Linked DNA regions of Homo sapiens. The protein of the gene in region 2 interacts with the protein of the main gene of each other region in a biochemical or structural test. Each region holds a gene or a part of one and is shown on either strand. Other genes may lie near its edges. The genes, in order: LRP5 and CAPRIN2.

Evidence for each region.
Region 1: the proteins of CAPRIN2 (region 2) and LRP5 form a complex in vitro, tested with the Homo sapiens proteins (one study listed by BioGRID).

Annotation. Positions count from the first base shown.
Region 1 is NC_000011.10:68,441,570-68,448,844, forward strand, and holds part of LRP5 (low-density lipoprotein receptor-related protein 5 isoform 1 precursor), read left to right. Parts: intron 1-4,003; coding exon of another isoform or gene 4,004-4,133; intron 4,134-4,866; coding exon 4,867-4,964; intron 4,965-5,357; coding exon of another isoform or gene 5,358-5,415; exon of another isoform or gene 5,416-5,588; intron 5,589-7,239; coding exon 7,240-7,275. UniProt on the Homo sapiens protein: Acts as a coreceptor with members of the frizzled family of seven-transmembrane spanning receptors to transduce signal by Wnt proteins.
Region 2 is NC_000012.12:30,723,866-30,731,140, forward strand, and holds part of CAPRIN2 (caprin-2), read right to left. Parts: intron 6,418-7,275; coding exon 6,374-6,417; intron 5,461-6,373; coding exon 4,783-5,460; intron 2,224-4,782; coding exon 2,101-2,223; intron 587-2,100; coding exon 505-586; intron 1-504. UniProt on the Homo sapiens protein: Promotes phosphorylation of the Wnt coreceptor LRP6, leading to increased activity of the canonical Wnt signaling pathway.

The DNA.
Region 1 (7,275 bases), on a different chromosome or scaffold from region 2:
CCTGCTGCTGCAACCCAGCTTAACCAGCCAGGAGTGCTAGGAACCCAAGCAGGGCCCCCGAGCACACAGCAGGCAGCTCACGAATTCTCTTTTCCTGTTCTCCCTTGGGAGCTGGGAGGATCTTAATCAGGCAATAAGAGATGGCACTGAGCAGCCAGCTAATTTTTTAAATCACTTTATTGTTTAACCATATGACTCACCCACTTAAAAAAGGGTACAGTTCAGTGGGTTTTAGTGTATTCACAGATGTGTGCAACCCTCACCACAGTTAATTTTAGAACATTTTCCTGCCCCTAAAAGAAACTCTGCATGAAGCCAGCTGTTTTTAAATTAGCAAAGTTATTTTGCATCCTTTAAATATATGTTCATGGTACAAAATTCAAAAGATACAGAAGAGTCTGCAGTCCAAAGAGACTCCGCCCCCATGACGCCAAGCAGGACTCCCTGGGAGGCATGGCCTCCTGCAGTGTGTTTCTTCTATGTCCCCCCAGGGGTCATCTGTACATATGCAAGCATACAAGAGCGTGGACTTTGTTTTCCAAGCCAGAAGATAATTGTAGATTTATGTGCAGTTGTGAGAAAGAGCACAGACCCATTTATCCTCTGCCTGGTTTCCCCCAGTGCTGCCTGCCATCTTGCATGACTTCCATTCCTATCATAAGCAAGACACTGATAACGATTCTTTCACCTTATTCAGATTGACATAAGTGTTTTTTGTTTGTTCTTGAGACAAACTTCCTCTGTCACCCAGTGGGAGTGCAGTGGCACAATCACAGCTCACTGCAGCCTCAAACTCCTGGGCTCAAGCGATTCTCCTGCCTCAGTCCCCTCAAGTAGCTCAGATGGCAGGTGTGCACCATCATGCCAGGCTAATTTTTAAATTTTTTGTGGAGGTGAGGCCTCACTAAATTTCCTGGGCTAGTCTTGAACTCCTGAGCTAAAGTGATCCTCCTGCCTCAGCCTCCCAAAGTGGTAGGATTACAGGCATGAGCCACTGCGCCTGGGCTGACATATGTGTTTTCGTAAGCCCGAAAGATAGCATCTGAAGAGTCAACATTGAGCCTTGCCTTTTGCTGCTAACGATGTATAAAAGCTGCTGTTCTGAGCATTTCGGAGGCTCCCAGCTGCCGTGTGCACCCTGCCTAGAGCTCTACCGTAACCCATCTCCGGGAGGAGGTGCTATTGTTTTCCTCATTTTGCAACAAGGAGGCTGAAGAACTGAGCATGAACCACTGGCCTGGGTCGTTCGGTTGGTAGGCAGTGGGGCCAGGCCATCCAACTCACAACCACCTTCTACTCTGCTTCCCCCGCACCCTGAAGTTTGTTCTGTTTTGAGGACACAGCCGTCACATTCTTGGTGGCTGAACAGCACTCCTTGTCAGGCGTGGCTGGGCCCCCACTGGAGGGCATCATGGTCCTCTCTCCTGCTGCGGTTGAACCTTGGCTGTTTCAACCACTCCTGCCAAGTGGCCCTCTGAAAGGGACAGTCCATCTTTTCTCAGCAGAGGGCCACACTGGCAAAACGGTCCCTGGCACCCTTTCTCTCCACCTGTCTAATATAGAGTAAAAATGGTATCATGTTAAGATCTTCATTTATATTTATTTTATCATGAATGATGTAAGCATCATTTTGTGTGTTTAAGAACCTTTGGGCCCAGCGTGATGGCTTGCAGCTGTAATCTCAGCACTTTAGGAGGCTGAGATGAGCGGATCACTTGAGGCCGGGAGTTTGAGACCAGCCTGGCCAACATGGAGAAACCCCGTCTCTAGTAAAAATTTAAAAATTAGCCGGGTATGGTGATCCCAGCTACTTGGGAGTCTGAAGCATGAGAATTGCTTGAACATGGGAGGCGGAGGTTGCAGTGAGCCGAGATCGCGCCATTGCACTCCAGCCTGGGCGACAGAGCGAGACTCTGTCTCAAAAAAAAAAAAAAAAAAGAAAAGAAAAGAAATTATCAATCTCCTCTTTTATGGCATATATATATATATATATATATATATATATATATATATATATTTTTTTTTTTTTTGGTTATGTTCAGAAAGGCCTTCCCTGCTCTGATCATAAAAAACAACTTATTTTCACACTCTCTCTCTTTTTTTTTTGAGACAGAGTTTTGCTCCTGTTGCCCAGGCTGGAGTGCAGTGGCGCAATCTCAGCTCACTGTAACCTCCGCCTCCCGGGTTGGAGTGATTCTCCTGCCTTACCTTCCCGAGTAGCTGGGATTATAGGCATGCACCACCATGCCTGGCTAATTTTGTACTTTTAGTAGAGACGGGGGTTTCTCCATGTTGGTCAGGCTGGTCTCGAACTCGCGACCTCAGGTGATCCACCCACCTCGGCCTCCCAAAGTGCTGGGATTACAGACGTGAGCCACCATGCCCAGCCCACACTCTCTTTCTTAACGTCCTCCTCCTTTCGTTTTACGTTCACATCTTTAATTCTTCTGGGATGTAATTAGATTTGATGAGCAAGGTGGGCATCCAGCTTGTTTCTTGGCTGATGGCTTATGGGTGGCGTGAATTAGTCGGGGTCTATCAGGAGGCAGAAACTCTATGAGAATTTGAACAGAGAAAGTTCCGTCTACAGGCTTATTACCAGGGACTGGAATAGCAGAAATTGAACAGTGAGATGTACAGAGAACTCTAAGAATGCAGGAATAGGCCAGGCATGGTGGCTCACACCTGTCATCCCAGCACTTTGGGAGACCAAGGCGGGTGGATCACCTGAGGTCAGGAGTTCGAGACCAGCCTGGCCAACATAGTGAAACCCCATCTCTACTAAAAATACAAAAAAATTAGCTGGGTGTGGTGGCGCATGCCTGTAATCCCAGCTTCTCGGGAGTCTGAGGCTGGAGAATCACTTGAACCTGGGAGGCAGAGGTTGTAGTGAGCCGAGATCATGCCATTGTACTCCAGCCTGGGCAACAAGAGCGAGACTCAGTCAAAACAACAACAACGCAGGAATAGCAGATGAGCCGAGTGGCCTCCCCAGCCCCCACCCCCCACCCCCCACCCTGGGCCGAGATCCAGTCCTCTTTGAATAGGGCCTGGCCGTGGTTCACGGGACATCTGAGACATTGCCGAGGCGCTGCACTGGTGGATCTTGCCAGAAGTCTGCCCAGTGCAGATTTGGGCAGAATCTCAAACTGCCTTGGGATGTAGGAGAGAAACCAGGCCTGGTCAAGTTCATGGGAAGAGGTGGAAACAGACCCCATAGGCTGGGGCTTGGGCAGCTGTAGGAAGCCCTCTCTGCTGCCTCCCTGCCTGCTCTCTGCTTTGAAGCATCTTCCCCAGTGCCCCCAGTCTCATGCCCTCTCAACGTTGGGGTCAAATCCTGAGGAATACCCAGACTGGCTCTCTGGGCCAAAGAGGACCCTCTCCAGAAAGAGCAGGGCCCAGTGCGGCTTCCTAAAGGGCAGGGGAAGGGCCTGGCCACTCCCCAGAGGCTACTCACCAGCCATCAGGATAGCCCCAGGAAGCAGGCCTTCTCGAGCCCATTTTATTACTTTATTTTATTATTTTATTTAATTTTAAATTTATTTTTTGAGACAGAGTCTCACTCTGTTGCCCAGGCTGGAGTGCAGTGGTGCGATCTCAACCCACTGCAGCCTCTGCCTCCAGGGTTCAAGGGATTCTCCCACCTCAGCCTCCCAAGTAGCTGGGATTACAGGTGCCCGCCACCACACCCGGCTAATTTTCATATTTTTAGTAGAGATGAGGTTTCACCATGTTGGCCAGGCTGGTCTCGAACTCCTGACCTCAAGTGATCCGCCCGCCTCGGCCTCCCAAAGTGCTAGGTCAAGCCCATTTTAAAGTTGAAGAAACTGAGGCTGAGGTAAATTCCCTCCCCAGGGATCCTGCTGCAGCCAGAAGGTGGTAAAACAGGACTTCACCCGGGTCTGTCTGGCGTGAAAGGCAGTGTTCTTGTACCACCCTAGGGGGCCTGAGAGAACTGAGTCCCTCGGGCATAACTGACAGTTCTGTTCCCATTATTCCGCAGGGGCTCGGATCTGGCTGTATGCTTTCCAGGATGGCCTTGGAGACCCACATAAGCCCTACACCCTTTGGGAAGCTGCATGTTGGGTTGGGGTGCCGTCAGTGGCACTTGTGGAAGGTGCAGACCTGTGTGGGTGTGTGGGCCCAGGGCCCCTGGTCCCTTCCTCCCTTTGTAGGGCTGGTTGTGTGCTGCCTGGACCTGGGGGGCACGTTCACGTGGTGAATTTGTCTATTTACTATCCCCGCTTTGGGGCTGGTGCCAGCACAGGCCCTTGTGAAGGGGGTGCCTTTGTCTGGAGTGGGACTGTGGCCCCTCCCTCAGCGTGGTGACTTCTGTGTCAGGGCTTCAGCAGGGACGCAGAGCCCCTGAGTGTTCGGAACAAGGGCGTCATTGCAGGAGTTAGACTGTGTGTGATGGAGGGAGGAGGGGCAGGAGGAAAGGTCAGAAGGAGAGTTCCTGGGAAGGTCCCTGAGGAGCCTGGTGAGGTGCTAACTGGTGTGGAGGACACTCAGGGCCTGTGGGGACATCTCCTACTGCTGGGGGCCAGCCACAAAGGGAACTGGCCGAAGTCCTGTCCCCGCCTTCACAGCCCAGCATCTGGTCACAAGGCAGGTACTTGGAAGGGCGCGGGCACCTGGGCCAAAAGTGCCTGGGTTCCCTTTGCCTTTCACTGAGATGACCTTCGGGGCAGGTGGCTGCTGCCTCCCCTCCTGTCCCCAGGTTTTGCCAACTGGCCAGAGGAAGGGGTCCTGGGAAGCAGGGGGGCCAGAAGCCCTCTCTGCAAGGAAAGCCCGAGGGGTGTGGGAGGAAGGAAGGAATGCCCAGGCTGGCGAGGCTCTAAGTCACCCTGGCTTGGCTCTCCTCAGATCCTGAACCCGCCGCCCTCCCCGGCCACGGACCCCTCCCTGTACAACATGGACATGTTCTACTCTTCAAACATTCCGGCCACTGCGAGACCGTACAGGTAGGACATCCCCTGCAGCCCTCCATGGCCATTGGGTTCCCGCCAGCCCGTGGTGGAGGGGCCTAATCCCCATGCCACTGATGAGGGGAGGTATTCTGGGTGCTAGTGGGCAGGTGCCGGGCCCAGCCCTGCCTCCCTCTGCTCTGCCAACCACACTAGGCTGCCTCCCCAGACAAGCTCAGCGGGCACTGCATGTTGGGTTCAGAAATCAGCAGAACTCCACGTTCTGAGCTGCTCTTCAAGTTGCTCCTATGGGGGTTACTTTTAAGCTGGGAAATGGCTGTGGCGTCGAGGGGCCGGGGGCTTGGGCTCCAGAGTCTGACTGTGTGTTTGAGTCCGGCTGTGGAAACCTAGCCATTGAGATGCCCCCTCTTGGTGGCTCTGTCCTCTTAGGATGGGACAAGTCTGTGAAGGCTGCTGCAGCACCCACCGTAGACCCCTAATCGTGTGACGTCACCAGGATGGTCCGGGCTGCTCACTTGCCACAGTGGCCTGTTTGAGCCCGGGAAGCCAACGGGGCTGCTCAGCTGGACACCAGCCCCCCGAGCTGCCCATGTTGGGGTCACAGGCCCCACCTCCCTGGTTGGGGAGGGGCAACTGAGAGTGTGGAGAGGTGGGACCCAGGTGTGCTGGTCTCCGCAGGGGCTGGATCAGAGCCTGGGATGGGCAGGGTGAGCCTCCTGACCTTTAACCCAGTGGTGTCAGGCAACGTGGCCCACCCGCCAGCCGCACCAGGCCCCACCCCCGCAGGTGAAGGGGTGGGATAGGCTGGGCCTGGGCCAGGACACCTCTGGACCACGCATTCCTCATTGCTTGGGTCCCTGGAGCAGCAGGGCCTCCCGAGTGTGGTGCCGCCTGCCACCTAGTGGCCATTTCCACGAACTCCCAGGCCTGGCTGGGGAGCCGGAACTGCAGCCTCCATTTCCACCCCACTCCGGGTCGGGCCACCTCCCTGATGCCTCAGTATTATATCAAACTGTCACAGTCTGTCCCACAGCCTTACAGACCACTGTCTCCAGAATGGTCACATCCACACTGGGCAGCCCAGTCTCGCTAGTTCCTCGTCCCACCTCCTGCCTTTGCTCATGCCCGTCCTGCTCTGGGCCCACCGCGGACACATCTTCCCCCCGCCCGCCGTCTGACCTCACAGCAGCTGGGCCCCAAGAGGAGTATCCTGTCCTGCTGCACTTTTCTCAACACCCGGTGTTGGCTGCACCTTCCCACCCATTGCAGGCCCCTCTGTGACAGGACGGGGGCTCCTAAACACACCACAGTTCCGAGTCTGAACTCACACAGTGGGATGCGGCGTTTCTGGGCCACAGTTGGGTGCAGGTAGCCTCTGGGAGGATGGGAGGTCAGGAGCCATCTTGCGAGTCAGGTTGCTTGAACTCAGGATGGAAGTGTTCCGGGCCCATTGGTTGCTGTATTAGCCTGTTCTCACGCTGCTAATAAAGACATACCCAAGACTGGGTAATTGTAAAGGAAAGAGGTTTAACGGACTCACAGTTCCACCTGCCTGGGGTGGCCTCACAATCATGGTAGAAGACAAGGAGGAGCAAGTCACATCTTACATGGCTTCAGGGAACAGACAGCATGAGAACCAAGCGAAAGGGGTTTCCCCTTGTAAAACCATCAAGTCTAGTGAGATTTATTCACTACCACGAGAACAGTATGGGGGGAACCACCCCCATGATTCAATCATCTCCCACTGGGTCCCTCCCACAGCACGTGGGAATTATGGGAGTACAATTCAAGATGAGATTTGGGTGGGGACACAGCCAAACCCTATCGGTTGCCAACATTTACAGTAACAGTGTTAGGTGAACAGTTGTCCAGTCTCCTGTTTTGTCGGACACTGTTTCTAGCACCTTCCAGGCAGAATCTCATGTATCCTTCACTTTCGAAATGGGTACTATTTCATCCCCACTTTTATCAATGAGAAACTAAAGCTCGAAGAGGTCAAGTAAGTTCCTGGCCAAGGTCAGCTAGCAGGCTCTAGAGGCCTCGTTCTCCTTAGAGGCAGCCTTGCCAGGGCCCAGGCTTGGCAGGCTGCAGGGCAGGTGCGGGCATGCCCATGGTAGAGGTGGGACCATTGAGGCTCAGAGAGGGTAAGTGATGAGCCCTGGCGACACAGCGGGGTGGGTCCAGAGTCCGGCCTGCATCTTCTGGAGCTGGCCAGTGGACAGGCCTTTCCCGTTCACAGCCCCGGGGCTGCTGTGCCCACCAGGGCGGATGTGCCTACCGAATCCCACTCCTCTGTGTGTGTCCCTTTCAGGCCCTACATCATTCGAGGAATGGCGCCCCCGACGAC
Region 2 (7,275 bases):
TAAAGCTGGACTAGCTTTATGTCACTCCTCTCTGGAGAGAAACAAATGTGGAGCAAAAAGCCCAAGCTTTGAAGCATCAGACCAGATTTGAATGCAGGCTCTTTTGTTAGTTACTGTGTTAATCACTGTTCTACACTTCATTGTGGTAATCACACCCGTAGTTAAGACCCAAAAGCCTCAACACTAGATTTAGAGTCCAAAGGAGTCAAGCAACTTCTAGTCAGAATTCACTCCACCAACAACATAAATTACAAAAACAGCTATTGAGTATTTCCATTCACCCATCCAGAGCCTTTCTCCAAAAAATGAAAACAAGTCAGTTAAGTACACTAATGTCCTAATGGTAATTTACCCACATATAACTGGTAACAGATGGATACAGTTAGAATAAATTAATACACCAACATATTAGGACATCTAAAATAAAATCATTTGAAAAGACAACAACAACAAATAGCTGTTAGCTCAAGACGTTTGCTCCAAGTCTTTAGAATGATTACATACCTACGGGGCTACCTGGAGTAGCTGAAGGCGGTTGTGACGTTGGAATTGCACTTGAAGGTTTGTCAAAGTCAAGAACAGACTCCTAAAGATATGATTTTAAATAAAGAGTGGAAACAGAGATTACTCATTTAAAAGCTATTACCATTGAATTATTCATGATGCTGCCTATAGTCTATTAGCTACACATAAATATCTAGCTAAAGCTATAGGTATCTAGCTAATCACTGTCTCAGGATGCCAAAACTAGTCTCCATAGATAAAGAAATTAAGAATTAAAAATAAAATCTAAAGTAACTGCCATAACTTAAGGCTGTGTAGAGTGCTAAAACCACAAGAGTAGGCCGTGCGCAGTGGCTCACACCTGTAACCCCAGCACTCTGGGAGGCTGAGGTAGAAGGATCGCTTGAGCTCAGGAGTTCGAGACCGGCATGGAAAAAAAGCGAGACCTTGTTGCTACTAAAAATTTTTTGAAGAATTAGCTAGGCATGGTGGTATGTGCCTGTAGTCCCAGATGCTCAGGAGGCTAAAACAAGAGGATCGCTTGAGCCCAGGAATTCGAGGCTGCAGTGAGCTTTGACCACACCACTGCACCCTAGCCTCGACAAGCAGAGTGGGACCCTGTCTTTAAACAAAACAAAACAAAAGCCTACAATACTAAATCTAAGGCCTAAGTCAGAAAAGAAACTCTTGACCTTACTAAGGTCCTAAACATAGCCATCAATCCTAGTCTAATCAGAACCCCCATTTTTATTACACCCAACCAAAGAGCATCTATTTATCTCAACCATTTACTAGCTCATGCTGTTAAAACATTTTCAAGATGAGAAATCACGCTCTTGTATCTGCCTATCTCGGTTCTCTCAGAAAAGTTTCCAGTATTTTGCATACTTAAGCTACACATTTGCAGGGAGCATTTTAGTTCTTACATCTTCAACTAATCTGATGGTATAGGCAATTCCTACATTTTGCAAATAAGTGTTGGAGGTTAAATAAACAGCTGGTAAGTAACAGAATTTAAACCCAGGCCCATATTCAAAGCTCAGGATCTTTTACTAAACAAAAATACTTATTTGACTACTTTAGCCCTCAGTAATCTCATACCATTCTCAAATTCTGTGTCTGTATCTCACAACTTAAACATATTGTATAACACAATTTATCATTTAACTATTGATTTAACATAAATTTACAATCTTCTACAACTGGAATATAAATTCCTTGAAGGCAATGAATGTCTCATTTTCTGTATCTGTACTACAATGGTATCTAACAATATCAGGCACAGAGTAGGTTCTCACAGTTCTCAGTACTGATAATCTATAGCAGTAATGATCCTTGAGCAAGTTAAGCTTTTCACATGCTTAATTCATTTTTTTTTGTTCTAACAAACTTAGAAAGTAGGAACAATAATCCTCATTTTTCAAATAAATAAACTGAGGCAGAATCAAGTAATTTGCCTAAACTCCAGGCTAGGAGAGCTAGGAGGCAGCAGAGCCAGGACTTGACAGAATAATCTATGCTCTTAATAATTTCACTGTAATGTTTCCAGTCAGAAGCCCCATGAATATCATTTAAGATTTTGTAAATGACTCATACTTGCATAAAGTTACAAGTTCCTTGAATCTGAGTCATCAGATCCTGCAGTTTTTCTTTCCTCAATACTGGATCCTTCGGAAGGGTAGAGGAAGAACCTACAGGCTGATGCACAGGCTTAGGCACCTACAAGATAAACCCATAATGTGTAAGAGTGAAATGCAAATTCAAGAGCCTAATCTAGGAAACAGTTTATCACTACATCTTAAAGGAAAAGAAAAAACAGCAATGTTCACTTATCACAGGTAAAGAATTTTCTCATAAATACCTTTTCTAAATAAGCAAACTTTAAACAGATTTTTCCCCTTCACAATTTTCATGGAACTCTTTCTAAAACACAAAATATTCCTTTTAAAGGGAAGATCCAGCAGAACTTCCTTGTTAAGAGTGTTTTCATTATGGACATGAGTTACCATATGTCCTCTAGGATAAGATGCCACTGACAATAAGACATACCAATGATTTTTTTTTCCAGGGCAAAAATTACTACTACCACATTAAATGTACATCCCAGTTTTAAGATGTATCTGATTTCAGAAATCAAAATGTAAATACATATATAAGTACATACATACACATACCCTAAAATTGAGAGGGATACATATATTTTGTTATAAAGTAAGTACACTCTTGGGGGCTACTGATATCCATCCTAAATTGCTTAAAATTGATGCACATTCTGAATTAGACCAATTTACAGTTACTTTTTATAGCTGTCAACATGCCAGTCTCCACTAGCTCCTCTTCTCCACCTTCTAATCAAAGAAGACACACAGCTAAGTTTGTCAAAGGTACCAGATAAAATAAGAGTTAAGAGACCATAAGTGAGTACATATGGGACTCTTTTAGGAGGAAGGTATGAACATCAGTGATTAATTTCATGTTATCTAGTCTTTTGGCTTTGAACTCTATTCTGCACTTGACTGTACTTAGTCAATATTCTAGACAGCTCAGATTCCAAGAAAGACAGAAAAATACTATATTACACATAGAAGTATCCTCTCCTCTCAGTAACTGAAAAACCCTACAACTTCAATATAACGCTATCTGTCCCACAAAAGCAAATTAAATATGTTTTGACCTTTCCAAATATGTAACACTGATTTTAAATGCAATTCATCAAATAGCATGATAATATTCTGGTATGATAAAGGTTCTGCATTGCTACACCTACTGGAATTTTAAGTCAGGTTTTTAAAAGCAGCTTTGAGATATTAAATTGGGTTTTTAAATGTTTTTCAAAATAGTTACATTACAGTTACTGTTGTGTGATATTTGGTTAATAAAATAAAGCTGACAATCTTCTGTAGGGTCAGGAAGAAGCTAAAATTAATATTAGCAACTTGAGAGAGAAAGGAGAGCAAAATAGCCAAATAACTCTAAAATTTTGTTCCCATACAGAATTAAGCCAAAGGTAATTTACTTATAAAATGCAATGCTTTGCTTTCCCCAAGCAAAATGTTTTTCATATTATTATATTAGAGGTCCAATGGTTTATCAGAAAGCCTTTAGCTAAAATGGCACAGATGTGCAAGGAAGACTACTCCATAGAGATAGAGAACACTGGAAGCACAAGTTCACATATCTCAGCAAATGAGGTGGTAACAAGTTTGCATTATAAATAGTAGTAAATAAGTAATTTACAATTTAATAAAAGGCAACCCTAACATAGCACTGTACCCAAGAATTATTCAATGTAAGTGTTATCTACCTGAAACAGGTTATTTATCCTTAAAAGAATGTGGCCTTATGTTTTAACTGAATCTTGTTCTCCAAAACCTAACTACAAAATATTTAATGCCAACAGTTTTCCTATCTTTGGAAAAATTCTCATTTTGAAATGGAAATAGAGAACTAATTCAAATCCTTCCCCCAATACTGAAATATCTGCAACCACCATAAACCTTCTTCATAAAGACCTGGGCTAAACTGAGTGACCATAAATGAGTAGAAGAGAAGCAAGAGAATATAGAAAAATATAACTTGTCAGAAAAAGTTATTCGTATAGCAGGTAAATGACAACAAATGAAATACAGTATCTCCCATCCTGTGACAAGCATTTGCATTACTCACTTGTTCACATTATGTCATTATGGTCTTATCTAAACTATCTACTATTTTCATATCATGTTATATTGTTAAAATTTGGCATTAAAACAACATTTTATAATTGCAGAAATTTCATCTCAGATTAGACTTAAAGACAGACTAGATTAACTCCCAGTTTTCAAGGGAAAACAATAAATCTACCCACTAAAGAGGGTGAAATATTTTATACATTAACTTCACATGGGCTTTGAAGAGAACTAAGGCCGGGCACAATGGCTCACGCCTGTAATCTCAGCACTTTGGGAGGCCGAGGCGGTTGGATCACGAGATCAGGAGATCCAGGCCATCCTGGCTAACACAGTGAAACCCCGTCTCTACTAAAAATACAAAAAAATTAGCCAGGTGTGGTGGCATGCGCCTGTAGTCCCAGCTACTCAGGAGGCTGAGGCAAGAGAATCGCTTGAATCCAGGAGGCGGAGGTTACAGTGAGCAGAGATAGTGCCACTGCACTCCAGCCTGGGTAACAGAGTGTTTCTCCATCTCAAAAAAAAAAAAAAAAGAGAACTAAAAAGTCATTACCACGACACCTTATTTATGCCTACACTTACAGAAGCAGAATGATACAGATCAACTCACATCTTTGGGTTCTGTGTTCAACTTCCTGGGCAGCAGCTGGTCATTTGGTATGAGGCTTGCTGTAGCTACTCCCCAGGACTTTGGAGAAATCTGTGACTGTGATGTTAAAGAGTGTTTTTGACTCTCAACATTGTTTTCCCAGGATTTTGGAGTCTCTGGCTGTTTTGAATCCTGTTCTTCACACATGGGAGTGGTCCATGACTTGGTGGTGTTCTGTTCGCTCTGCATGGAAGGTGTCCAAGACTTTGGAGTTTGCTTCTTTGGATCTTGTTCTTTCTGCAGCTGAACTGGCCACAGCTTTGGTGTCTCCTGTTTCTTTTGTTCCTCTTGAACATACCCTGCTTTGGATTTAGGTGTATCTTGCTTCCACTGGCTAGGAGATGGCTTGGATTTGGAGATCTCCTGCTTCTTCTGCTCTTCCGGCAGAGTAGACCTGAGTTTTGAGGTGTCTTGTTTCCTCTGTTCTAAGGAAACTGCAGGCTTGGATACCTCCTGGTGCTTACCAGAAGCCTCCCAGGACTTAAAGGACTCCTGTTTCTTCTCTTGACCATCTGGTTCAGTAAGCATATCCCAACGTTTTGGGAGATTTGGTTTTCTAGCATAATCTGCTTCCCAAGGTTGCTCTTCGCCTTGTTTGTTTGAATAATCTACTTCTGTCATATAGCGTCTGTTAAGAAACTAGATAGAGAAACAATGCACTTAAGTCACAAAATTCATAGAAGACCTTGGAGGGAATATTCAACTCTATTAGTATTGCTATGTCCTCTGATCTAAGTTGTTGCACTAATATTAAATTTCTGTCCTTATTCTACTTGAAAAGACTTTCCTACTTCTCTTTCCTACTTTCCTACTTTTCTGTCCATTCCTTTTTCCTCAATTAACAGAAATACAGACTTCGATACATCAAAAGTAGCAACTTCTGTTGGACTTGCCTAAGACTGGCAAGAATTGCTTGATTCGGATTCTTCTACCAAGGCTGTTCCGCCTTTGCCAGCCTTAGGACCATTCTCCCCAGTTGACTCCCTCAAACATTAAAAGGCAGAAGATAGTTCAACTTCAAAGTTAAATTATGTAACCTTAAACGTGACATTTCCTAAGTTACCAGTGTTTTCTTTATTTCCCTTATACATCAATGACACTGTTTTTGAATCTCCCATTCTTTTCAGCTTCCCATGAATTTCAATGTCACTTCAGAAAGAGAACAAATACCCTTTTCTGCTACCAATGTGAGTAAATTCTGGAGAGAGCAAAGTCCTGCGCATCTTAAAGTTCCTCTAACACAGGAGCCAAAAATAGCTATCATTTGGGCAGTTCGTGTGCCAGACCAAATTCTAAGTAATTTAGAATTTAGATCAACCTCTTTAATCCTCACAATAACCCCATGAAGTAGTCATTAACGTTATCCCTATTTTACATATGAGGATAACAGACACAGCTGGACCAGATTTCTTGCCCAAAGTCCCTAAGCTAGTAAACTGCAGAACCAGGGTTCAAGCTCAGGCAGTCTGGCTCCAGAGCCTTAGCTTCCAACCATAACCCTATGCAAAAGGCTGAAAAATCAACATCAGCAAATTGTCTTTCAGTATCTTACCTCTTGTGGTTGTATCTCTGGCTGGGCAAATTCCATTAGAGACTCTGGGATGATAAAAAGAATCTGAATAAATACTAGGTGAACTGTAAGTTTTTAGACAGATTACAACTATAATTCATTCTAGCAACATATTTCAGAAGACTCGTAACAGAAAAAGGGTAATATAATCAAGTATATTGATGGCAAGAGGAATTATATTCCTTGTTAGTCCAAAGCATGTGGTCTGAGGCTAGTTCAAACTAGTAGCTCTCCTTATGTAAGACACTTTACGAAAGTCAAGTTTCAGTTTAAAACTGATATCTGATTGAAAATAACACTATTTCTTCTTACCCTAAAACACAGCTTTTTTTCAAGTTAGCATTATAGCTCATGTCCCATGGGGTAAAAATTGGTCATCTCAGCTTGAAATAGAGCCCTTAAAAACCTCTTACAAGCCAGTTTAAGGTTAGGAGGGGATAAGAGAGTGGAGATACTTAAGCACTGCACTTAGTATTAAGAACTAAGGGGAAATAAACATGGAAAATGGTTTCGCTCTTGCTTATGGCTACCAGAACCCTGCCTGGACTACCTCCTGAGAAGAGGTATTTCTTTAATAAATCCAACTTTGGTAAACAAAAGCAGAAGTGCCACTTGCTCAAAGTATTTCTTCCCCAGGCAAATGATAATTTTAAAAGTATATTTTCTTTACTGACTTTAGCACTTTTTTCCCCTGAATCAGTATTTCGACCTTAGGTTAATTACATCCTCATTCCACTACAGTACTGGTTTCTACTCTAACTTCCACTGTAAACAATTTTAAACAGAATTATCCTACTAGTAGTTTAACAGAGAAGTTTATTCAAATTCCATAAATGGCTCCTTTTAACCAATGTATTCTTTTGGGACAAAGTACAAATTAATAT